Homo sapiens: one gene and its partners. The protein of the gene in region 4 purifies or fractionates together with the protein of the main gene of each other region. This does not show direct contact. Each region holds a gene or a part of one and is shown on either strand. Other genes may lie near its edges. The genes, in order: NKTR, PNN, RNPS1 and SNIP1.

Region 1 (7,035 bases), on a different chromosome or scaffold from region 4:
TTGTCTTTTTTCCCTTTCAATTTCTCTTTCACTTTTTTGGTGTGTTCTCTTTTAAGATTTTCCTTTGACCCATGTTTGTGCTTTTGTGGCTTTCCCCTATTGTTTTCCGAATTGGAACAGGACCCCTCAGAGTCAGAAGTTGATGTGCGCTGTTTGCTTGATTTCCAAGCACCATTATCATCAGGCAGTGAAGTATTTGTGGACGACTTGGTTGTGGGTTTGACTTTGATGTGAATTTCACTAACCTCTGATTCAGAATCGGATGTGGCCTCACCTTCTTCCTTGTCAGAGGATGGATGGGAGTCATTTTTACTGTTTTTAGTGACATCTCGTTCTGAATTTGACTCAGAGTCCCATTTACTACCAGCATAATTCTTCCTTTTGGGCTTACTGCCATTTCTAAGGTGATCAGAAAGATTCTCTTTCAAAGTTCTTTTTTTTGAATGAGGGCATTCCCGTTCAGACTTGGATTTTTCTTCACCTCTGTTTTTTTCTTGTTTATTATGTGTTCTTTCCATTTGGCCCTGCTTCTCTTTTTCCTGGGCTGACTGTGTGGCCTGAACACTTGACTGCTCACTGTCTGAAGAATAATCTAAAGATGATCTGCTCTCGCTATACTTTCTCACACATGAAGACCTGTCTCTACCTTTGACATATTTACTGTGAAGTGTCTTTTCAGAGCTGCTGCTATGCTTTTTATGTGAAACGCTATTTTTTTTCCCACTGGATCTAAGTCTCCTCTTAGCTCGCCTTCCATCATCACTGCTAATAGAAGTATATGAAGATGATCTACTACACTGTGAATGATCACTGTATTTATTTCGTGAATGAGATCTAGATGATGGAGACCTAGACCTTGAATGTGAACTAGCTAGACTACGTGATCTTGTATATGATCTGGAATAAGATCTACTCCTAGAAGATCTGCTCCTTGACCTTGGTGAGCTTTCTGAACTTCTATCACTGTATTTTGAATAAGTGCTCTGATCACTTTCCGAATTTTTTTCTCTTTTATGGTAGGATGATGAGCTACCAGTCTCTTTAATATTTGCTAAACTGTAAGTGCTTTGGATGGGTAGCAAATGGGTTGTTTTAGCTTTCATTTCCTGAATTCGCTCATAAGAGGGCTTCCAAGGTTTCTGTCCAGGCTTCCATCTTGAAGGGGGGGGACTGTCACTCAGTGGTATTACAGGAATATTTTCTGCTACAACTGGTTGTACTACTACATTTTCATTTTGTGCCATGGTTGCTCTTAAAGGTTCTGTTTTAACTGGTTTATTTTCACTTAACTGAGAAGCTGTTTTTCTTGGTGATTTTGATGCTCTCTTTCGGTGCCCAGACTTGGAACTAGATCTGGACTTTGATCTACTTCGAGAATGTGATGAGGACTTTGACGCAGTCCTTGATCTTGAGCTTCCTCTAGAATAAGACTGTGAGTGAGATTTTGATCTGTATGAGTCTCTGCTGGAATGGGTTAAAGAGCTCTGGACATCCTTATCAGATTTAGACCAGTCTCTCTTTGATGAGTGATGAGATGACAATGAGGAAGAACGAGAACTCCTTTCTCTATCACAAGAGGATTTCATTCTTCGAGTGGAAGATTTTGAGGATTCTATGTCAGACGGTATAAGAATCCTTCTCTTCTTTGTTTGTTTGTGTCTTCTGCAGTGTTTCTGCTTTTTCCCTTTCTTTTTATGCTTAACCTTTTTTTCTTTTCTGCGTTTTTTATGGTGGCCAGAGTGTCTTGCTGTACTAAGGTCTGAATAATATCCATTATAGGACCATGATCTGGATCTCTGAGACAAGCTTCTTTCATCCCATCGGCTTGAACAGGGGTCACTTAACCTATAGAAAGGACATAATATTCATGCGGTGATTTATAAGCATGTTTTCTACACCTTAAGACACAGCTTTGTTAACAACAAAGTTCTTGACCCCATTAACACTTTAAGCACACGCAGGAAGCGTGAATCAGAGTTATAGGCCTGGTCTTGTTATACTTTCAGAGACACACACTAAGAACTACTAACAAATTCACTTACAAAAGGATTTTTTTTTTAAGCTAAGCAAAGAACCTTACATTTGTTAGGAAAATGTTTTTGAAAAGCAAACCAACTAATCACAAGAACACTGCTGAACTCAAATCACAAGAGTTCCTGGCTGTTATCTGCTCACAACCCTCTGCCTCTAGGACAGTTTTTGAGGGTGAGTCAAACCAAGGTCTCAAACAATTTGTTGATTTTCTGAAGATGCAGGATAGCTGCTTGAAACTAGCATGAAGCTTGTTTTTTCTCCACCTCAGACAGGTAATCCAGATTTCCCCTAAGACTGTAAACTACTTAAAACAGAAATTGAGGAAAAAGTACACAAAAACAGATACAGGTTACAATCTGAGTGTTAATGTCAAGGCTCAGAACTGAAAGTCCTCAGCACCACTGTGTCTGAGCCGCTTCTACACAGCAGATGCATTCCTTTTCCTCCTTTTCACAATTCCAAACCACTCTGCAGGATGTCCCCAGAGAAAAAGAGAATACTACCATGGAAGATTACACAGGGTCCCATTAGTATATTTTTCACTAGCTATTCTGGGGCCTATCCCCTTCCTAAAATAAATATTCAACTGTGGGACATCACTGAAGGTAAGAGATGTGTACACTTCTAAAAAAGCAAGTCTCTGCGATCAACAGTCAACATGAACACCGAGTGCAGGTTTTCCTATTTACCAATGAACTCATCAGTGACCTGGCTGGCTAGGAAAGAATCTGCTATATAATTTCTAAGTCCTAATTATTTTTTTTTTTTTTTGAGACGGAGTCTCGCTCTGTCACCCAGGCTGGAGTGCAGTGGCACGATCTCAGCTCACTGCAAGCTCCACCTCCCGGGTTCACACCATTCTCCTGCCTCAGCCTCTCTAAGTAGCTGGGACTACAGGCACCCGCCACCACGCCCGGCTAATTTTTTGTATTTTTAGTAGAGATGGGGTTTCACTGTGGTCCCAATCTCCTGACCTCGTGATCCGCCTGCCTCGGCCTCCCAAAGTGCTGGGATGACAAGCGTGAGCCACCACGCCCGGCCTCTAAGTCCTAATTATTTCTAAAATTGACTAAGAGGTCATTAAAAGACACAGGCTTATAGTTTTTGTTAAGGAAAACAGGATTTTGATTTAAAAGCCCAACTAGTTAACAGTACTACTTTCATCAAGTAGTCCCAAATGTATTTCCTTTGGTCACAGTCTGACTGTGAATCTTTCACTGAATCTTTAATGAAAAGTCCAGAATTGTATCCAATCCCTTTAACATTTAAAATATAACAGACACAGGATTGTGCTTATACTCAAAGTTCTTACTTATCTCCTTTACTCCATTTTTCTCCACTAGGTGGTCTATATGCTCTTAATCTCTGCATTTCCTCTTTCCAGTGAGGAGGAGTTTCACTGCTGTCATCATCATCTGACTCAGAACAGGATCTTGATCTTGGAGGTGTGTGATAGCGCTTTAAAAACAAAAACAATAGTATTTTAAAAAATGCCTCTCCACGACAGTCTGCTATGTGACAGAGTTAAGTAAAAGACCCAATCTCAGATCATCCCATCAAAGGTAATGATTGAAGTTACCAAAAGGATGGTCTAAAGTTCTTTTTTTTTTTTTTTTTTTTTAGTTTTTAACTTTTATTTTAGGTTCAGGTGAAGTTATTTCAAACAAGGCATTAAAAGAGATGGGCAAGGCTGAGATTCACCTGTAATCCACATAAAATTTTCCTTTTTAAAGTCTTAATGATTTCTCAGCATACTCACTGATGGTTTCACATGTTCCTCCTTTCATACTCAATTAAACCCATTCAAACACAGCAGTATACTTTGATCTAACAGCAATACCTTCCCATAACCATGGAAAATACAATTAGTTCCTTGAACAGATTTTGTATTATATCTAAAATTAACGCTAGGACTTTGAAAATAGGTAAAAATTTTTTATTAGATACATAATATCAAAAAAAGTCTTATCACACATACAATTGTGCCCCTTCCTTTAATCTTCCGTCCAGACTTTGATACAGATGGTTTCTGATCACTTACAATGGGTGCAACATCAGGAATCTTCCTAGGAAAAGAAGATTGTGATGAAAATTAAAAATAAGCAAAGAAGCTAGAATTTTTAATAATGAAAACACATTATGTTAAGCTATTAATTCAAAGATACATGCCATTTTGCAATAGCTTTTTAAAACAAGACAATATCAGGCTTTAAAAAATATTTAATGAACTAAATGATAACTTTATGCAGAGAGCTAATTATAAATAAGGACTCTTATACTTTTCAGCTTTCAAAATAACTCTTCATAGGGAACTTATCAATGACACCAGCCATTATGATATTTCTGTTCATGAAACATTTTCTTTCAATAATTCTAAACTTGAGTCTAACACACAAAATACATTAAATACTATTTTCTCAGACCAAATCTAAAGCGACACATTCACTTTTCCAATGCAGGAAGTAATTGTTGAACAAGTTAACAAAAGTAACTTATTTATGATACTAAATTGTATCTCCAATCATCATGCAATTAATTATGCACTATTCAAATTGGAACCCATGCTTCATCACTCAAATGGATCCAAAGAATTCAACTAACTCTCTATTCTGATAACTAAAACCTCACCCCTCTAATAAAAGGCAAAGGCAAGAAGATCAGGAATAAAATCTTTCCAGATCCCCAATAAGGGCTTCCCTGACCAACTTGCCCAACCTCCTCTCCCTGCTAGAATGTGAATTCTGAAAGGTAGGGTACATATCACTCAATAATCTGGTATCCCCCATATTTCCTACGTATCATTCATTAATCTAATACTCCCATACTATCTTTCAATGTGCTTCAAACATGGATCATGTTCCATACATGAGTGTGGAATGCAATGAGCTGACGGAACAGTGTTATCGGAGAAATAAAAATAAATAGTTTAGTCATCCTACTTACGGTTCAGGTTCTGCAGTAACAACAGGCATATCTCTTCTCAGTAAAAATCGGTTCTCAGGCACTGGAGGAATCTCTTCTGGGCGGACCACAGGTTTTTCCCTTTTAGCACTGGAATCAACTGACCTTTTTTCATTGGTATCACTCCTCTCAGAGTGACTTAGAACAAACCAAGTCACTGATTAAAATGTATAATGTTTGCATTTCATAATAAAAGCACATAAAATTAGTTACTAAAACAACAGCATAATTAACGATAGCTTACAAGTCTCACTCAAAAGAGTTATATGATTTTCACAAAGAGAACAATATCAACCCAGTGAAAAACCCAAAGACTAGAATTTTGATAGGAAAATTGTTAAATGATCCTAACTTTTTTATTTTAAGAGTTCCAGGAGGCCAGGCATTGTGGCTCACACCTGTAATCCCAGTACTTTAGGGGTCTTAGGTGGGAGGATTGCTTGAGGACAGGAGTCAGAGACCAGCCTGGTCAACATAGCGGAAGACCCTGTCTCTACAAAAAATTTAAAAATTAGCCAAGCATAGTGGTATACGCCCGTAGTCCTAGCTACTCAGGAGGCTGATGCAGAAAGATCTCTTGAGCCCAGGAGGTGGAGGATGCAGTGAGCTATAATTGTGCCACTGTATTCCAGCCTGGATAACAGAGCAAGACCCTATCTCTTAAAAAAAGAGTTCTTAGGACTATTTTCACCCGAAAACTGAAAACACACAAATCTTTGAAATGAAATGCCTATGCTACCTACTCCTAGATTTGCCAGATTTCAATTTAAAGTTTAAAAAGTGCTATCCTTTTTCAATAACAGGTAATAAAATTGAGTTTATAGAATTATACATACTTTTCCCATTCCAGAGTGTTTGTTTTTAGGTAAGAGTACATTGGTGTTTTACACGTACCCTTTTGGGTTCATTGCATGTTTATTCCTTGGCTCTTCTGAACTGCTTGCTTCCTTTCGCCTCTTTTTAGAACGTTTAACTTTTGGCCTCCTCTTATGTTTCCTCCTTCTGCTTCTCTCATGTTCAAGTTCACTTTCTGAAGATGATTCTGAAGAAGAGGAGGAATTGGAAGAGGAATCCGAGCCTTCTGAATGAGTTGGTTTCTTCCTTTTTTTCTCAAAAACTTTTAAGAAACATTAATAAAAACATTAGTACTAAATTCAGTGCCTACCTTTCAGAGTAAAAAATGTGATTACTGAATATCATAAAATATGCTTTACATACAGCAAACAAAAAATGAAATGTAGACAGTTTTTTTCAAGTTTATAATAAAATTACTGGCAAGATTGTAAGGTAGTAAGTCCCTTGTCTTTATGAAGCCTATATTCTTGTTGGGTCAAGTAACAAGAAATAGGCCCGGTGCAGTGACTCATATCTGTAATCCTAACACTGTGGGAGGCCAAGGTGAGCAAATCACTTGAGGTCAGGAGTACAAGACCAGCCTGGCCAACATGGTGAAACCATGTCTCTACTAAAAATAACAAAAATTAGCCAGGCATGGTGGTGCATCCCTATAATCCCAGCTACTCCAGAGGCTGAGGCAGGAGAATCACCTGAACCCAGGAGGCAGAGGTTGCAGTGAGCCGAGATAGTGCCACTGCACTCCAGCCTGGGTGACAGAGCAAGACTCTTGTCTCAAAAAAAAAAAAAAAAAAAAAAAAAGAATTGCATAATATGACAAATGATTAAGTGCTAAGACAGAAAAACAAAGCAGTGTAAAGGGAATAGGAAGACTAGGGGTAGTTTAACATAACATTTGAACAGAGACTTAAGAGCAAGGGACAGTGTCATGCAGATATCTTAACAAAGGGTGTTCCAGACAAAGAGAATAGGCAGCACAAAATCCCTGAGTGGTTGGCATGTCTGAAAAAAGGTCAATGTGCCTGGAAGGCAATGAATAAGGGAAAAGAGTTTAGAGAGACAGCAGAGAGCCAGACCAGCCAGGGCCTTAGAGACCACCATAAAGACTTCTGCTTTGGATGATTGAAGATGGGAGTCCTTGGAGGGTTCTGTGCAGGCGTGACATGAATGCAAACTATGGTTCAA
Region 2 (7,144 bases), on a different chromosome or scaffold from region 4:
GGATTACAGGCATGAGCCACTGCACCTGGCCGCTTCACATTTTCAATTCAGGATACCAACTAACTAGAACTTAGCACTTGGTACTGACTGTAATTTGTCTTTAAGGAAATGGAGACTTGAGGCTTTTTTTTTTCACATATCTAAATTTCAAGGCTATTAGCTATGATATCAACAACTGTTATATTCCAACACAATGTTTAAGTAAAGCTGTTCTATAAGAAGTTAAACCAAGTTTTTACTTGGCTTTGTTTCAGGTTTACAGTTAGGTCTTAAAAGAGCTTTAAGGATTTTTTAAAAAAAACATTAATCTACTACTTTGATAACTTAAATATATGATGCAAAACAAAACTTGGATAAATACCCTTTCAGTAGCAACAGTGGATTCTTGTTTAAATTTTTGAAGGGTACCCATCAACAAGCCAAATATTCGCCGGTTCCTAAAGAACAGAATAAGAAAATTTACTGTCAACAGGATCCATTTCATTTAAACCCATCATTTTCTAAGAAATACTACAGGATGCTTGAACAATCCCTTGATTTTCCTTATAACTGCATTATTTCACTAGAGTTTTTTTCCCCCAGGGAAATACCTTTGCTTTCCCTTTTCATCCATATTTTGATCCTGGATAAGGTCTCTACGTGTGCGCTCTTTGGAGGTAGCTACAACTGAAGACTGCAATGCTGGCTGCAGAAAAAGAAAATCTCAGTAATTTAACTAGCATATGAGTGGTGTGCTTTTAAATGTAGTAAAGTGAAGGTACTACATTCATTTAAGTTCTTTCAATCTCAATACCTTTTTAACATCATCATCCTCCGGGTCGCTTTCCTGGCGTGATTCTCTTCTGGTCCGACGCTCCCCGCCCAGCCTGTCATAGAAAATATTAATTTTTTTGAGACAGGGTTTCACTATACCACCCAGGCTGAAGTGCAGTGGTGCCACCACGGTTCACTGCAGCCTCGACCTCCCAGGCTCAAGTGATCCTCCTGCCTCATCCTCCCAAGCAGCTGGGACTACAGGCGTGAGCCAGCATGCCTGGGTAACTTTTTTGTACTTTTTGTAGGGATGGGATTTCACCATGTATCTAGGCTGTTCTCCAACTCCTGGGCTCAAGTGATCTGCTGGTCTTGGCTTCCCAAAGTGCTGGGATTACAGGGATGAGCCACTGTGCCTGGCCAAAAATTAATTTAAATGACCACTGAGGTATTTATGTAACTGCACACCAAGGGCAAATGCCCTCTCTTCTAGGACTCGTTTCCAGAAGCTTTGTTCTATCAAGTCTCCATCCCATTTTATTCTTTCCTCCAGCAGAGAAAGGATACTACAATGTGTGAACTAACGCCCAAACCAATTTTGCTCTCCTGTATTTTCTAAGTATTTCAAACTGGTTAAGTTTTTCAAGTACAAGTCAGAAAAAATGGTACTAATTGACAATTTTTCCAATTTTACTCTTCACATGACCTTTATTTGGATAAAATTTAGGTTATCATGAGTGCAGAACTGCGTTTTGAGGGAACTGATAGTCAACTGTTCAGTCAAATACCAACAGAACTTGGGGGGGGCAGGGAGTGGCATACCACTCAATTTTAATATTGCTGAAACAGAATTATTGTTAATAAACATTTATATTTGTGTGGTACCTCAGAAACTAAAGAAGCCTTCAGGAATCTTTTTTTAAACCTACCTACTGACTGCCCCTTCAAGGTCTCTCTGTTTGGCTGGGGGTCCTCCTCCACTATCTGAGAATCCACGCCTGAAATTTAAAATGTTCAACATAAAACACTTGAAATACAAGATAAATGGTATTTCCATTTGACAAGAGAATATGGTTAAACTTTCAAAAATCTTTCCAACTAAAGTAGCCTTAAACGGGCATTCATTCCAAAATGCTTTTATAGTGTTACTTTATAAGAATTAAGTTCACTCAAAATTGGTAAACTTAATATATTCTTCAACCTCCAGTTTTTCAGGATAACTATATTTATACAGAAATCTAGTCTATTACAACATTAAACAAAACAAAGACGACAAACACTGGGTTATTGATTTTATCACAGGTTTTGTTCAAACCAACATATTTAGTAAAGTACCAGTAGTTTCAGCATGAGTAAAGTCCAAAGGAAATCTTACCTCAGTAATAAACTACCACGTCCTCTACCTCCACCAGGACCAGAAAGGGCCAGCAATCTGGCTTGGATGGGCCTGTAAAAGATTTACAAATCAGTGCAAAATCATATGTAGACACACACAGTCGCACCCAAATACTTTCAGAGATGTGGATCATAAGGAGAAAAAATCACAAAAGTTCCAAAAAGATAGTTTCAAATAAATCTAAATGTCTGAAACAGGACAGGAAGTACTATTTCATTTAACTTCCTCGTTTCTCCAGGACCTGTGTCACAGAAATTATATTCACCTCGATGCCCCCACACATTAACAAGCCTGGATCAGGTCCCCATCCCGCCATCCCCGAGGAGGCTGCACGTGGACAGGAAGCTGGGGTAAGGCGGCTTGTTGCGTCCCGGCAGGGTCTCGGGGCCAGCAACGGGCCGGGTGTCCGCCGGAGCGGGAAGGGGCTTTGTGCTGCAGTTCCGGGCCTGCAGGGCCGAGAGCGGGAATCAGCAGTCCGGGTCTTCTCACAGGCCAAGAAAGCATGCCGGCGCACCCAGGCCTCGCTCTCCTTCCTCAGGGACCTGAGACCAGCGCTCTACGGAGGGGACCTGGGGCCTCTCCACCTCGGCGACAACAGGGTTTTACCCGCCGCCCCGCGAACAGGCCTCGAGGTTCCAGTCTTCTTAAGGCTGGCCGCCCTCCCCGCCCCCAATTCACCCCGACCTGAGGGCTGCCTCTCCGAGCTCCGAGTTCCGAGTTCCCGTTAGGCCCTTACCTCACGTCATTCGGATCCCGCCCGGTGAGCTTGCGAATGTTCTCATCCACGTTCTTAAGACTCTCTTTGGCCTTTTCCAGCTGTTCCTGCAAAGTTCTCACGGCGACCGCCATCTTCTCCCTGCGGCAGGCTTGAGACTGCTTTACAGGCCGAGCCGGGCTATGCCGCGCCGCCGAGGCGCGAAAGGACTGACAGCCGGGCTCAGCCAATGACGATGAGCGTTGTCTTCCGGCCTCAACCACTCAGCGACCGGAAGGGGGAAGAACCTGCAGCCTTTGTGACTCTGAGCCAATGAAAAGTCAGCCAGGCAGTCATCTCCCTCCCCAGTTAGCTGCGGGTGCCTGGATCCCGCTGCTAGCGCAGAGTCGGGGCGGGTTTCACAATCCCTGAGTTCTCGGAGACTTAGGCTCGCGAGTCTGCAGTTCTGGCAAGGGGAGCGCGGAGTTTTCTAGGCCTTTTAACCTATGATGTAATGTGCCTTACACCGTTTTAACGTGATCACATCAGAGTGGGACTTAGCCAAGCCTCCTTTTCTTCCTTACCCTCACCTTGGTTAATGATTTAATTAGGAAAGGGCGCGGCTATTCTGTTGGTGCGCATGCTCAGAGAGGGGGTGGGCGCGTGCTTTCCTCTATTAGGTTAATTTTTTTTTTTTCACACGGAGTCTCGCTCTGTCGTCCAGGCTGGAGTGCAGTGGCACCATCTCGGCTCACTGCAACCTCCTCCTCCCGGGTTCAAGCGATTCTCCTGCCTCAGCCTCCTGAGTACCTGGGACTACAGGCGCGCGCCAACACGCCTGGCTAATTTTTGTATTATTAGAGACCGGATTCCACCATGTTGGGCAGGCTGGTCTCGAACTCCTGACCTCAGGTGATTCGCCTGCCTCGACCTCCCAGGGTGCTGGGATTACAGGCGTGAGCCACCACGCCCAGCCTGATTAGGTTAAAGTGAGAAGAGGGAAGACAAAAATGAAAACTAGTAAAAGTCATTAGTCATAATGGCTAACGTTTGTTAGGGGTTGATCTTGTTCCCGACCCTCTGTGAAACCGTCTACATGCCTTATTTCTCACAAACTGAAAGTGTGGATAAAATGCCTGTTATTACTGATAAGGAAATTGAGACTGGAGATAATATAACTGTCCTTTGGTCACGCCAGTTGAGAATCAGTCTCTGATTAGACGCTGAGCATCTATACTAGAGAAAAGAAAGCAATGGCGAGACAGACACGCAGTCATGGTTGAGTTAGCCTCTTCACCTGGCCTAGAGCTGGTTAAGACCAGACCTAAGGGAGCGGCCCTGTTGTTAGTGGTGTCTGTGTGTGTTGTCCCGCTTCTGGTTCTGCCCTACCTGCACTGCCAATGTAGGAACTAGTTTTGTTCTATAAATATATATACAAATTGAAGCTCAGAAAACATTTTTTCACAGGCCAGGCACAGTGGCTCACGCCCGTAATCCCAGCACTTAGGGAGGCTGAGGCAGGTGGATCACTTGAGGCCAGGAGTTGGAGACCAGCCTGGCCAACATGGGGAAACCCCGCCTTTACTAAAAATACAAAAATTAGCTGGGAGTGGTGGTGTACGCCTGTAATCCCAGCTACTCGGGAGCCCGGGATGCGGAGGTTGCAGTGAGCCGAGATTGCACCACTGCACTCTAGCCTGTGCGACAGAGTGAGACTCCGTCCCAAACAAACAAAAAAACAAAACACTTTCCCACAGAAACAATGCTTTAAATAATCTCAGCCAGGCATCTATCTTCCTTGTACAAAGAATTAGTGGGCCCAGTGTATTAATTAACTCAAGCTACCACTTTAATCCAGCAATCTTTTAGAGCTTCCATTGTGTATCAGCAGTAAGCTAGGGTTTGAAAATAAAGCCTAGAACAAGATAGTTGTGATTCCTGCTTCTGTGGGGTTTGTAGGCTTCCAAAGGAGCAATGATCATTCATTAGTTCAACAAATACTGAGGGCCCACTATGTGCCAGGTGCTATTCTAGGCACTTGGGTATATCAGTGTACAATAAAGATCTCTGAGCAAGTCCAGTGGATTGTGCCTGTAATCCCAGATACTTGGGAGACTGAGGTGGGAGAATCGCTACAGCCCAGGAGTTAAGACCAGCCTGGGCAACATAGCAACGATCCTGTCTCTAAAAATAAAAATTTTAAAAATTGTACTGGAGAGGCTGAGGCGGGATGATTGTTTGAGTCCAGGAGTTTGAGACTGCAGTGAGCTGTCATCACACCACTGCACTCTAGCCTGGGCAGCAGTGAGACTCTGTCTCAAAAATAAATAAATAAATAAATAAATAGTATAGCATGTTAGAAAGCGGGAAGTACTATAGGAGAAAAAAATGTAGAGATGAATAATGGGGATGAAGATTGACAATTATCTAATTCTGATTGTGAGCATACTTAGCCTCATTGATCTTATTACAGGTCTGTGTACAACCTTAGGCAGTACCTGAGGCATGAGAGTGTGATAATAGTAGAGCGTATTCAGCAAGTGTAAGAATGTTTGCATGTATGGTCGGCCCGGTAATCCCAGGATTTTGGGAGGCCTTGGTGGGCGGATCACTTGAGATTGGGAGTTCAAGACCAGCCTGGCCAACATGATGAAACCCTGTCTCTACTAAAAATACAAAATTAGTCCTGCATGGTGGCAAGTGCCTGTAGTGTCAGCTGCTTGGAAGGCTGAGGCAGAATTGCTTGAGCCCGGGAGGTGGAGGTTGCATGCAGTGAGCCAAGATCATGCCACTGCACTCTGGCCTGGGCAACAGTGAGACTCTGTCTCAAACAAAACAAAACACACACAGCTGGGCACAGTGGCTCAAGTCTGTAATCCCAGCACTTTGGGAGGCCGAGGCAGGCGGATCACCTGAGGTCACGAGTTCGAGATCAGCCTGACCAACATGGAGAAACCCCGTCTCTACTAAAAATACAAAATGAGCTGGGCTTGGTGGTGCATGCCTGTAATCCCACCTACTCGGGAAGCTGAGGCAGGAGAATCACTTGAACCCGGGAGGCGGGGTTGCAGTGAGCTGAGATAGTGCCATTGCACTCCAGCCTGGGCAACAAGAGCAAAACTCTGTCTCAAAACACACACACACACACACCACACTCACTGTCCTTGCTTCCATAGGATCTATTCCTAGGAGCCTTGGCAATTTAACTTTATGGAGAAGGATAAGTAGGATGCTGTGTTCAATAGTTAGTAGGTCCTCATTAAATAAGTTTCCTTTCTATCCAGAAACGTACTTTAAAAGCCTCATGTTATTGTGGTTGGAGAAGTCAACTTTGATAAATTGGCCATTTACTTACTTTTTGACTTGTGTGGTGGACTTGGACTCCTTTTTCTTGATGGTAGTGATGAGGGCAAGAATGTCATCTAGACATAAAGGACCTGATTTCGCATAACTGAAAATTTAGTGCTGGAAAAATTAAGATTACCATGGCAAAATACTCTTCAAAATTACACAATTTAGTGTTTTCAAAGGCTTAAGTGGAGCTTTTATGCTGGATTTACGTGATGAATGGAATAAACTGATTCAAACATTAGAAGGGACATGCTTAAAAAAAAAACCTACCACAATTAAAATTTTGGAACATGATCTTAAATTCCTGTGAAAGGGCATGAAGAGTTTGTGTGTGTGTTTCGTTTTTTGAGACGAAGTCTTGCTCTGTCGCCCAGGCTGGAGTGCAGTGGCACAATTTCTGCTCGCTGCAACCTCTGCCTCCCAGGTTCAAGTGATTCTCCTGCCTCAGCCCCCCGAGTAGCTGGGATTACAGGCACCTGTCACCACGCCCGGCTAATTTTTGTATTTTTAGTGGAGACGGGTTTTCACCATGTTGGCCAGGCTGCTCTCAAAACTCATGACCTCGTGATCCCCCCCACCCCCCGTGCCTCGGCCTCCCAAAGTGCTGGATTTTACAGGCATGAGCCACCTTGCGGTATGTTAATTTGGGGGAAAACAACAGGGACAATTGGGGAAAAATTTTGTTTTGTGAATTACCAATGGAAGAACTAATCACAGGCTAAGCAACATGCTTACGGTTGAATTTGCCAAATTTAAGATGTACATACTATGATGTAGCATGTGTATTTATTTGCACATGCAGTGGGACAATTCCTACAGTTGTCTCACACTGCTGTAGATTATTAGCAACTCCATCCTGCAGTGACATCGCTTTTCTGAATTCTATAGCACTTTTCACCTAATCCTCTGATTAGTCTGTATTTTCCGGTTCAAGTGTATCTTGTTTTTCG
Region 3 (7,270 bases), on a different chromosome or scaffold from region 4:
GATTCCACCAGGCCAGCCCGGGGCTTGAACCCCAGCCAGGGCAGCTGCTGTCTGCTGCCCCACCAGGTAACGCACCGACCCAGCTGCTGTTCAGCTCCCCCTCTGGGCCAGCACCATGCTCATGGCATAGGCCGGCTGGGCCCTCTGAGACCCCCACTCCCACACAGACTGGTCTGCATGGAGGCTGGTGCAGCCTGTGCCGTACAGACCCTGCCCGGCTGCACTACTGGCCAGAGCCCCCTGCAGACAGGCGGCTCGAGGGGAGCTCCACCATGCAGGAGATGGCCCAGCACTGCAGTCACTTAGGCTGCTCATCCCTCCCCGAACTGACATGTCCCTCCCTCCAGATGCCCCCCACCGCCGAACCCCAGCATGCTGGGCATGCTCTGGCCATCCCACACAGGGATCAGGGTGGGAGGGCTGGAGGCTGCCTGTCAGGGGCAAGGCCTCCTCCAGGAGGTAGGACGGGGTGGTGCAGGTGGGGTCCCCTCACCTGATGGGCCCTCGAGGCCAGGCTGTAGGCAGGCAGGAGGGGGCTGAAGCAGTGGGGTCAGGCCCGGGGAGCGGGGGCCCTGCCTTCCTTCCTCAACACACGGGGCTGCCCAGGCCCCGCTCCTGGGGCCGGGCCCACACCTCACAGACACTGGTGTTGGATGCTTCGGCTTGAAGGAGCTCCAAATGGACTAGCCGCAGCTGCCCCTGGGTCCACCTGGCCCAGGCAATACCACAGAATCACCAAGGCTCATCTAGCCATGGGCCCAAACCCAAGGCCCTAAGAGGCACCCCGGGTGCCTCAGTCACAGTCCCAGGCAGCTCAGGTCCCAGGCGGCTCACAGTCACCATCCTTGACTTCATGGTAGCAGAAATGGAGTGCTTTGAGCTTGTGATGAGCACAGGCTCCCAACCCTGGGAGAGTTCAGACATGCCCACTGGAGAGGCCCCAGGCCCTGATGATACCCACTCCTCAGACATGCAAACCTGGAGCCAGGGAGGCCCCAATGAACTGCATACTCTCCCAACAGACCAAGCTCACCCCACACCAGCGCAAGGCCCTTTCAGACCCAGCCTGGCCACCCCCATGGACCTGGCCAGCACCTCCCCCAGCCCCACCCTCTCCAGACAGGCACCAGGCTGTGGTGACCCGCCTCTCAGCAGCTCCTCCTCTGATGCCTCCCCACGGTCCAGTCGTTACCCCCTCGTCCACCTGACTGGGCTGCGCATGGCCTCAGTGCAGAGCCAGGTTTTAGTAGTGGGTAAAAGGGCTCCCTTGCTGTGCTTTACCAGAGAATGCAACACCCCCAAAGCTCCTTCATGACCCACTGTGACCTGCAGCACCACCAAGCCCATCCTCATCCCTGTGTCCCAGGCCACCAGCCTCTGAGGGCAGGCACTGCAGGAGCCACCGGGCCACAGAGGATGGAGGCAGGGAGGACATTCTGCCTTCATGAGGGCATGCTCTCAAAGACAGAGCCGCCCCAAACTGTCAGCAGGTGACCCTCCGCTCTGGGAAGGCAAGGGGAGGAGCTCAGGGCCGTGGCCAGAGCCCACGAGAAGCCCGTGCCCAGCTCAGCAGGTGACCCTCCGCTCTGGGAAGGTAAGGGGAGGAGCTCAGGGCCGTGGCCAGAGCCCACGAGAAGCCCATGCCCAGCACTGCAGGGCTCTGGCCACTGCCTAATGCCCTCCATGAAGCCCTGCCTGCCCTTCCAGCAAACCAGGGCCCCTGAGGCTCCAGAAACCCCAGCTCCACTGCCCTCAGCCTCCATGGCCTTAGCAGCCTGGCTCTGGGGCTGAGCTCCTGGAAGGGCAGGGTGGGGGTAGGCTCCTGAGTTTTATTTTCTCACATTTCTTCCAGACATGCTTCTGCTGATCCTCAAAATGGCAAAAGCCAGGATGCTCAATTCTCAAAGCTCAACAGCTGATGGCACATTTGATAACAAAAATCAGTAATATTTAGAAACAAATTTGATTAAATTCGTAAGTGCCTGAATAAATCATACTTGTAGATTTAATATAAAATGTGTGAAAGCTTATTCGCAGGCCAAATGACATTACTGCAGAGCATTAAAAACCAGCAGGGGGAGGGCTGTCGGCCCAGCTGGTGCTGCGTCACGCCCACCCATGTCATGTGGGGTCACCAGGCTGCCCCTGCCCACCAGGTGTCAGTGGGGCCCTGGGCATGGGCTCTAGGTTTGGGGCCTTTTAGCACCTCTGACCACTGGACTCCAATGCCACCTCAGAGAATTCCGCCTATGCCTGCCTGGACCACCGAGGCTGCCCCCTCCCCTAGCGCCGACTCTGGGGCCCCTTCAGCAGGGGGGCGGCCCCTCTGTTCCACTTAATCTTCCATGCCTGGGCACAGCAGGTGTGACAGTAATGCAGAGACTCTAACTCACTTTACATGTCATCAAACCCAAATCCAACGGGTACCCAAACCAGACTGATGGGCCTGCCAGCCTCCACCCACAGGAACACACTGGTGACTTACTGCAGCAGACTCGGGAGGTAGCTCCTCCTCCTAGCTGCCTTTGTCCCCAACTCCTTGGACATCCCTTAGCCCAGGGTGAAGGGTCAAGGGCACACTTGACACCCTCGGACAGGGCCAGAGGGAGTGGGTCTCGGCAGGAAGTCACCAAGAGCTGGCTTCCCACACAGGGAAGAGGGCAGTGATGGCAGACCACATCCCCACTATCTATCCATCCATTCACCCACCCACCCACTCCGGGTCACCAAGCTGCACCCTGTCCTTTGCTCTGACATCTAAAGTCTCCAAGTCATGCTGGTTCTCTCCTCCCAAAGATCGGCTTGGATCTGTTCCCTTCTCCCTTCCTTGCTGCCACGAAGCTGTTCAGACAAAGTCTGAAGCTCAGCGCACCGTCAATCCCTCCACAAATAACCACAGGGCAACGACTGCCTGACAGGCACAGCAGAGAACAAAACCCGCCCTCGGCCGGGGGCGGTGGCTCACGCCTGTAATCCCAGCACTTTGGGACGCCCAGGAGCGAGCACTTTGGGAGGCCAAGGCGAACCTAGGAGCGGATCACGAGGTCAGGAGTTCTCGACCAGTCTGGCCAACATAGTGAAACCCTGTCTCTACCAGAAAAATACAAAAAAAATTAGCCGGGTGTGGTAGTGTGCGCCTGTAATCCCAGCTACTCGGGAGGCTGAGGCAGGAGAATCGCTTGAACCCGGGAGGCGGAGGTTGCAGTGAGCCGAGATCGCGCCGCTGCACTCCAGCCTGGGCAACAGTGCGAGACTCTGTCAAAAAAAAAAAAAAATCCGCCCCGTCAGTGTGGGGAGTTGACGCGGAGCCTCCTGCCTGCACCCCTACAGCGTCACCCCCTCCTCTGTCCCTGCCAGAGGCGCCACCTCTGGACTCTCCCAGGGTCGGACCCTGGTCGACAGTGCTCCCTGCCCGGACCCTGCACCGGCCGATGGATGAAGCCTCGGCGCTGCGCCGTTCACACGCTCCGTGCCGCTGCCGCGAAGCTCGCGCGGGCCTGCGAGCCGGTACCCGGGCCTCCCTTCCCTGCTTCCAGCGAACCTCGGCGCCTGCTGTTCCCCCGCCGGGCGCGCCCTTCCATTCGGGTCTCAGCGGCAGTGTCACCTCCCCGGAGAGGCCCGCCGTTGCACCCCATCTCCCACTCTCAAGCTCGTCGCTCTTCCTGCCCGCACAGCCCGCCTGCCGCGCCCACCCGGTGGAGGTCCGCCTGCCGGGAGGCCGCGTCCACGGGAACACCCCAAACGCCACCAGTGGATTTTGACCGCACGAACGCACGCCCTGCCCCAGCCCGTCTCTCCGAGCTACTTCCGCCCTGCGGGCCCCCACGCCCCGCCACGCACGGCCGCAGAGCCTGCGAACCCCTCCTGTGCTACCACCCCGCCGGCCTCAGCACAGCCCGGCCCGGAGCCCCGCCTCCACCGCCGGCGACAGGGGCCGGAGTCTGCCCGGGCGGGCCCAGTGCGCCCGCGCAAGGAAAGGGGCGGGGCACGGGCGCGTTAACACCCTCCGCGCCGGAGGACGAGCCTCGGTCATCGCGCTGCCCTCCCAGGTTCAACAGGCTACCCATGTGCCCGCTCCAGTAAGCGTGCAACCAGCCCGGTCAGTCCCAGGGACTTTACCGGCTAGGAGACACCTTGAACGTCCCCAGCGCGACTCCCACAAACTGCCTTGACTCTTTAACGCTTCCTCGCTGGCGCCCATTGGGCCAGGCGTTTACGTCATCGCTGCGCGCCGGGCGGCGGCGACTTCCCGCTCCTTGACTCTGACGTCAGAGCGGCGCCGGCCTCGGCGGCTGAGGAAAGCAGGAGGAGGTGGCGGCGGCGGGAAGATGTAAGTTGGGGCGGAATCCGACTGCATCCGTGTTTCGGGGGCTGCCCGGCAGGCCCGGCAGGACGCCTCGTGAAGCCGGTCCACTCCTCAGCCCCGCAGTGCGGCGGTGGCCTGGCAGCGCGGTGCGGGCTCCGAGAAGAAAGAGTGTGGCCCGGGGCGGGCGGAGTGGGAGGTGTCGAGGCCGTGGCCCGGAAGTGGTCGGGGCCGCTGCGGACGGAAGGGCGCCTGTGCTTCGTCCGCTCGGCGGTGGCCCAGCCAGGCCCGCGGGACTCAGACCAGCGGGGAGCGCGGCCTCCGCCCTTGGGGCCCTCCCGCCGGGCCGGAGACCCAAGCCCCCAACGCCAGGCCCTGCCCTGGAAGCGCTCGCGGCCCGGCGCCTGGACGGGGGAGTTGTGAGTGAACGCGGACGGGTAGCGGCGAGGTCGGCGTGTCGGGCCGGTGTCGGCGGGCGCGGAGTTTCTTTGTGGGATGCGGTGGAAGGTCGGCCGATCCCCCCTTCGGAGTCATTAATTCAAACGTGTACTCCGCGAACGTTTCCCGGACTCCCGTGTGCAATTATCGGCGCTAGGCCGTGGGGATACGGCCCACTATGGACCGAGCACGGTGGCCGAGCTCAGTTTGATGGGTTACCCCAGAGGGGCGGATACGGGAAGGTTAAGTTTGTTGGAGGAGAAACGTGGAGTAGGCTTTTTGTCTTGATTCCGCATGAACTGTGCCTGAAATGTACTTTTAAATGGGGAAGGTGCTCTGAAGATTTGTGCCGAAACGCCCTCTCCTCGAGATTTAACTAATTGTTCTCTCCTCTCTCTGGCTGTTGGACGCGCACCTTTCCGGAGGATGGGGGAGGTAACCGAGGTCCTGAGCCGGTACCTGAACTTGGGTGAACAGAGAACCTCAACTTTTGCTTTCTAGCACTCGACCGCACCCAGCAAGGCGTCCGCTTACTCAGTGGTTCTTAGTGTTTGGAGTGCTTAAGAATAACTGGTGGTGTTTGATTTCACCAAGTACATTCGGGCAGATCTTAGTTCTTGGGGGGGTGGGGCTGGAATCTGCGGGTGTGACCTCCACTCTAGGTCTGTGCTGTCCAGCCAAGTAGCCATTGGCCACATGTGGCTGCTAAGCATGTGAAATACAGCTAATCAAGACTGAAATATTAAAACACACACCAGTTTTAGAAGACTAGGAAAAAAGCAAACTTTTATTAGATGTTTATGTTGATTATATGTTGGAAAGATAATATTTTGGATGTGTCAAACGTTAAAAATTAATTTCACCCATTTTTGTGACGTGGCTACTAAGGAATTTCAGGTGATGCTTGTGGCTCCTCACACGGTTTCTATTGGACAGTGCTGCTGCAGGTGATTCGAAGGCGGGTGGGTGCAGGAACCCAGCTGAGAGTTCAGAAATTAGTGTAACTTTGGAGACAAGTGTCTGTGGGGGAAGGAGCCTCCGGACGTGGAGATACAACTCTTGCTCCTAACATTTATCGAGTCTTTAATTAATGCCCTGGGTAACTATAAGGTTGGAACTGTAATTGTCACCATATTGATGATGAGAAACTTGAGAAAGGATAAGTGACTTGTCTAAAATCACACAGTAAAACCTCAAATCAAACCCAGGCCCTCTGGCTCCAGACTCTAAATTATACTCTGAATGATACTCACTGATTGTCCGAGGACACAAAGAGTGTCGAGGCACTATCTGCTGGGTGTCTGCAGAACCTTACTGTTCTAAAGCAAAACATTTTACCCCTGGACAAGAGCAGCAAAGGTGGCGTTCGGCCCTCCTTGGCTCTCATTTGACTGTTCAAAGCCAGGTGCTTTTCTTTCTTGGGTCAGAACGTATTTTCAGCAGCATTTTGAAGCACCCCTGGCGTGCACTGCACAGGGAAACCAGGACCACATTGGTGTGCTGTGTCCTCCTTACCAACTGGCTCTTGGAGAAGGTGAGACAGAAGTAGCTGAGACTCCATTCCTGAGATCTTCACTTAACAACTCCTGCAGCTTGTGCAGAGCCTTACTAGAAATACTGAAGGCAGAAGTCCCTGGAAAATAGGGCCCATAACTAATTAGTAATTTGTTTTTGAGTAATTTGTTACCGTTATTTGAGCACATTCTGCAGTCCAGGCATTTTGCTAAACTCTTACATGGCAGGCAGTCTCTCACGCAATTTCAATGCCTACTTTTTTTCTCCATCTTATTTTTGAAAAATGTTAAAAAAAACACAGGAAGGTCGAGTTATACAGTTAATACTCACATAAAGACCACTTAAGGGCCGGGTCTGGTGGCTCACGCCTGTAATCCCAGCACTTTGGGAGGCCGAGGTTGGCGGATCACGAGGTCAGGAGTTGGAGACCAGCCTGGTCAATATGGTGAAACCCTGTCTCTACTGAAAATACAAAAATTAGCTAGGCCTGGTGGCGTGCATCTGTAGTCCCAGCTACTCGGGAGGCTGACGCAGAAGAAATGCTTGAACCCGGGAGGCGGAGGTTGCAGTGAGCCAAGATCGCACCACTGCACTCCAGCCTGGGTGACAGAGCAAGACTCTGTCTCAAAAAAAAAAAAAAAATCAGAGGTTAATAGTCTATAAGTTACGTTTCTGCTATATTTGCTGTATGGTGTATCTAGCCACCCATCAATCTTATTTTTTCTTTAAAAGTGAATTGCAGACTTGCATGTGTCTTCCCCTGCACTCAATATGCATATTATTAAAGTACAGTGCAATAACTGCTTTTTAAAATGATTCTTCTACTGCTTTTTAGATGTTCATATGGTACATTTCATCTGCTTGCTTTTGGGTATTAAGTGTTTTGATGCTGGTACCAGTCGCTTTTGAAATGATTTTTGCTTCCAGTCACATCCAGTGTATCCTAAGGGGAAATTGCAATAAAACAGGAGATCTAATCCTATCTGGAGACCACCCTTGAGTTAGGTTTTTCTC
Region 4 (3,380 bases):
GCGAACCCCTGAGCAGAGAATCTTACTAGGCTTTGGTTATCACCAAAACAACCTCCAGTATATACCAAAGCTTTGACTTGTTTGAGCTCTTGAGCTTAGAAGTTGATTTTGCACTTATTTTTTTGGGGGGTGGGAATGTACTGCAGTCAGTAAACATTATTGACTGTTTAACTTAAACAGATGCTTTATGGCACCTGCTCAAGCCCGTGACTGTACAGAAGGATCCTGGTTGCTACCAGTGGGTGCTGATTCAGCATCACAAGTGACTGAAATTGGCTGTGGATCTGTTCTTTGTGAAAGAATTCCTGATTTCTCCATGGAGCATGTACACAACAATTTTGATCATATTAACTGTACTTCAGTTTTGCATTTTTATTCAAATGTTATCTCTTTTTTTCTTTGAGAAATAAACTGTCACTGATGTGACAGCGTTCTTTCTTTATTCTAATAACATGTATAGATCTAAAGCAGGTTGTGTTGTTTACATGTTTCTACACATTTCATCCTTTAAAAAGTTGTTGAGAGAGGTTGTATTTACCTTCCCAAGGTTGGAAAGCAGGGGAATTTCCCAGTGTCCTAGTTTTCCACCAGAGGAATATGTGTAAGTAGCAAAGTATTTGCTGCTTACATATAGTGTGTATGTATGTATATATGTAAATTGTGTGTTAAAGAGCTGATACTGATTTTCATATGACAATGTTAGGCAAAGGCCTCCCTGCATTTGAAGAGCAGGTTTTCATTTATATGTATTTTTGGGATAAAAAAATAAAATTTGTAAATATAGCCCCATTTCAAAGAGTAATGCTTTCCTAGCGTAGAGGACCTTGTGTTCATAGGTCTGTTTGCTGCTAATGGAGCCTTCTGTCAGTACTTTTGAGATAAAAGTAGGTAGCTGTTTTAGAGTGTTGTGGGGCAGGTTATATCGTTGGCCTCCAAGTCAGTGGAATAGCAGATGGTGACATGGAGGTGGGTTGTGGGGAAAGGTGGTGAAGCAGCTCAATCAGTGTTACTACTAATTGTTCCTCTTGGGTTGAGACTTAGGATACTATTAAATTTGATTGTTTTCCATTGTTTTTATACCCATGTGTGCTCAGGGCTAAAGATTGGCTAGTGGGAGGGGCAGCTGACTAATGTTCATTCAGAAGAAGTTAAAAGATCCTTTGAAAAGTGAACACTTAATAAGGTCATTAGATGAAACGTAAGTTGGGCCGGGCATGGGCACAGTGGCTCATGCCTGTAATCCCAACACTTTCGGAGGCTGAGGTGGGCAGATCATCTGAGGTCAGGAGTTCAAGACCAACCTGGCCAACATGGTGAAACCCCATCTCTACTAAAAATACAAAAATTAGCTGGGCGTGGTGGCACATGCCTGTTTTAATCCCAGCTACTCGGGAGGCTGAGGCAGGAGAATCGCTTGAACCCGGGAGGTGGAGGTTGCAGCGAGCTGAGATTGTGCCACTGCACTCCAGCCTGGGTGACAGCGAGACTCTGTCTCAGAAAAAAAAAAAAAAGGTAAGTTGAAGAATGTGTTCTACATTGGCCACTGTAACTGCTATTTTCTTCATTTTGGTATGTGCCATAGATCATATATATGTGCTTGTCTGAAAAGTAGGTTTGTTTGGATGAACTTTTCTCTTGATCCAGACTGACGGTTTTCTCTTGAGGGTTTAAGCACTAATCTGGTATCTTACTCTAGGATCTCCTTGTTCAGTCTGTGCTGCAGTAGCACTACTTTGTGGTAGCCTTGAGTTTTGCTACAAACTTCATCCTGGTGGGCACTGTGATAGATGACCACTTTGCCTACATTTTTCAGTAAGAAGTCCTAATTGTTTAGTCAGTTTTTATTTTAGTAGAGGAATAACGTCCTGGATTAAGAAATTCTTTATGCCACATATCTGAGAAGGTGGGTTTTTTTGTTGGTTTGTTTGTTTTGAGATGGCGTCTCACTCTGTCGCCCAGGCTGGAGTGCAGTGGCACCATCTTGGCTCACTGCAACCTCCGCCTCCCAGTTTCAAGCGATTCTCCTGCCTCAGCCTCCCAAGTAGCTGGGACTACAGGCACCTGTCACCAAGCCTGGCTAATTTATATATATAATTTTTATTTTTTATTTTTTTTTAGTAGAGATGGGGTTTCACCATATTGGCCAGGCTGGTCTCGAACTCCTGACCTTGTGATCCGCCCCTCTCAGCCTCCCAAAGTGCTGGGATTACAGGTGTTAGCCACCAGGCCTGGCCTGAGAAGGTGTTTTTTTTTTTTTTTGGTCTTGTTTTCCCTTACCCCTTTCTTTGAAGAAAGGGTGTCAAAAGACATTACCTGCCTCTAAAGCCAGATATCACCAGCAGACTTCTTAAAGTGGACATAATCCTAGAGCTTTCATTCTGTTTAGAAGTTCATGTTCATCTTAGCCATTTGGAACTTCTTCATTCTCTATCTTTTCTCCACGGTGGCTGGGCTTGTCTGCAAATCATTGTGTCAAAATCAAACTATTTTCAAAACAGCCCTTTGCTTCTGAGCCCCTCCCCTAAGTCCTCTGTGGGGGTCCATGATTCTGCAGAGGTATGGGACAGAATCTTCAGATTTTACCCCTTGAGTCTCTTCCTAGTCATATCCTGGTTCCCTCATTCTAATATTGACAAAGGATGACTCATTAAGTGCAACTGGTTATGTAACTTTCAAATACTTTCATTGTGTATGTCAGGATCTGAGGAACAAAATGATGTCATTTAATCGGAATCTAAACGTGACACAAACAACGTGCCAGCAATACCTGCTTGTGAAATAATGTTCTGAGCCCACAGTGTTCCTGGGTATGTGAGTTTATATCAAGTGAAAAGGCTGCTTAATTGACATTAAAGTTTTGGAATGTAAAGCTTCATTTGGTCTCTTGGGTAAAATTTCCAGTGTATTTATCAAATGGGAAACAATTCTAAAAACAGTTGTTCACATTTACTCTAAAGTGAATTAATCCAGTCAGCAATAGTTGCATAAGTTTATGCAGTTGGTTTACAGCTAAGTTAGAAAGGGAGCAATAGCCAGGTGTGGTGGTATGTGCCTGTAGTCCCAGCTACTTGGGAGGCTGAGGCAGGAGGATCACTTGAGCCCAGGAGTTCAAGACCAGCCTGGGTGATATAGTGACACCTCATCTTTTAAAAAAAAAGAAAAACAAATAATTTGGAGATGGGCCGCACCTTGTGGAAGAGATGACAGTTGAGGTATACCTTAGAAAATAGTTTGATTTGGAGTCAGTAGTAAAGGAGGACATCATGCCAGACTGAGCAGTCCAGGGACTAGCAGGACTGCAGTGGACTGTGGATAAGACCCTATAAATTAAGTTGTTTACCTCAAGACCCATGACACGTCAGTGGTAAACCTGGGATGAG

What was found.
Region 1: the proteins of SNIP1 (region 4) and NKTR purify together in Homo sapiens (affinity purification with mass spectrometry; 5 studies listed by BioGRID and IntAct, with this or other methods). This does not show direct contact.
Region 2: the proteins of SNIP1 (region 4) and PNN purify together in Homo sapiens (affinity purification with mass spectrometry; 6 studies listed by BioGRID and IntAct, with this or other methods). This does not show direct contact.
Region 3: the proteins of SNIP1 (region 4) and RNPS1 purify together in Homo sapiens (affinity purification with mass spectrometry; 6 studies listed by BioGRID and IntAct, with this or other methods). This does not show direct contact.

Annotation. Positions count from the first base shown.
Region 1 is NC_000003.12:42,631,678-42,638,712, reverse strand, and holds part of NKTR (NK-tumor recognition protein), read right to left. Parts: intron 6,113-7,035; coding exon 5,890-6,112; intron 5,153-5,889; coding exon of another isoform or gene 5,134-5,152; coding exon 4,978-5,133; exon of another isoform or gene 4,977-4,977; intron 4,101-4,976; coding exon 4,013-4,100; intron 3,493-4,012; coding exon 3,347-3,492; intron 1,846-3,346; coding exon 1-1,845. UniProt on the Homo sapiens protein: PPIase that catalyzes the cis-trans isomerization of proline imidic peptide bonds in oligopeptides and may therefore assist protein folding. Component of a putative tumor-recognition complex involved in the function of NK cells.
Region 2 is NC_000014.9:39,171,134-39,178,277, reverse strand, and holds the start of PNN (pinin), read right to left. Parts: upstream 3,025-7,144; 5' UTR 2,999-3,024; coding exon 2,886-2,998; intron 2,500-2,885; exon of another isoform or gene 2,398-2,499; intron 2,201-2,397; coding exon 2,129-2,200; intron 1,752-2,128; coding exon 1,683-1,751; intron 867-1,682; coding exon 794-866; intron 686-793; coding exon 591-685; intron 438-590; coding exon 362-437; intron 1-361. UniProt on the Homo sapiens protein: Transcriptional activator binding to the E-box 1 core sequence of the E-cadherin promoter gene; the core-binding sequence is 5'CAGGTG-3'. Capable of reversing CTBP1-mediated transcription repression.
Region 3 is NC_000016.10:2,265,115-2,272,384, reverse strand, and holds the start of RNPS1 (RNA-binding protein with serine-rich domain 1), read left to right. Parts: upstream 1-4,258; 5' UTR 4,259-4,328; coding exon of another isoform or gene 4,329-4,330; exon of another isoform or gene 4,331-6,275; intron 6,276-7,270. UniProt on the Homo sapiens protein: Part of pre- and post-splicing multiprotein mRNP complexes. Auxiliary component of the splicing-dependent multiprotein exon junction complex (EJC) deposited at splice junction on mRNAs.
Region 4 is NC_000001.11:37,533,944-37,537,323, reverse strand, and holds the end of SNIP1 (smad nuclear-interacting protein 1), read left to right. Parts: 3' UTR 1-2,875; downstream 2,876-3,380. UniProt on the Homo sapiens protein: Required for pre-mRNA splicing as component of the spliceosome. As a component of the minor spliceosome, involved in the splicing of U12-type introns in pre-mRNAs. Down-regulates NF-kappa-B signaling by competing with RELA for CREBBP/EP300 binding.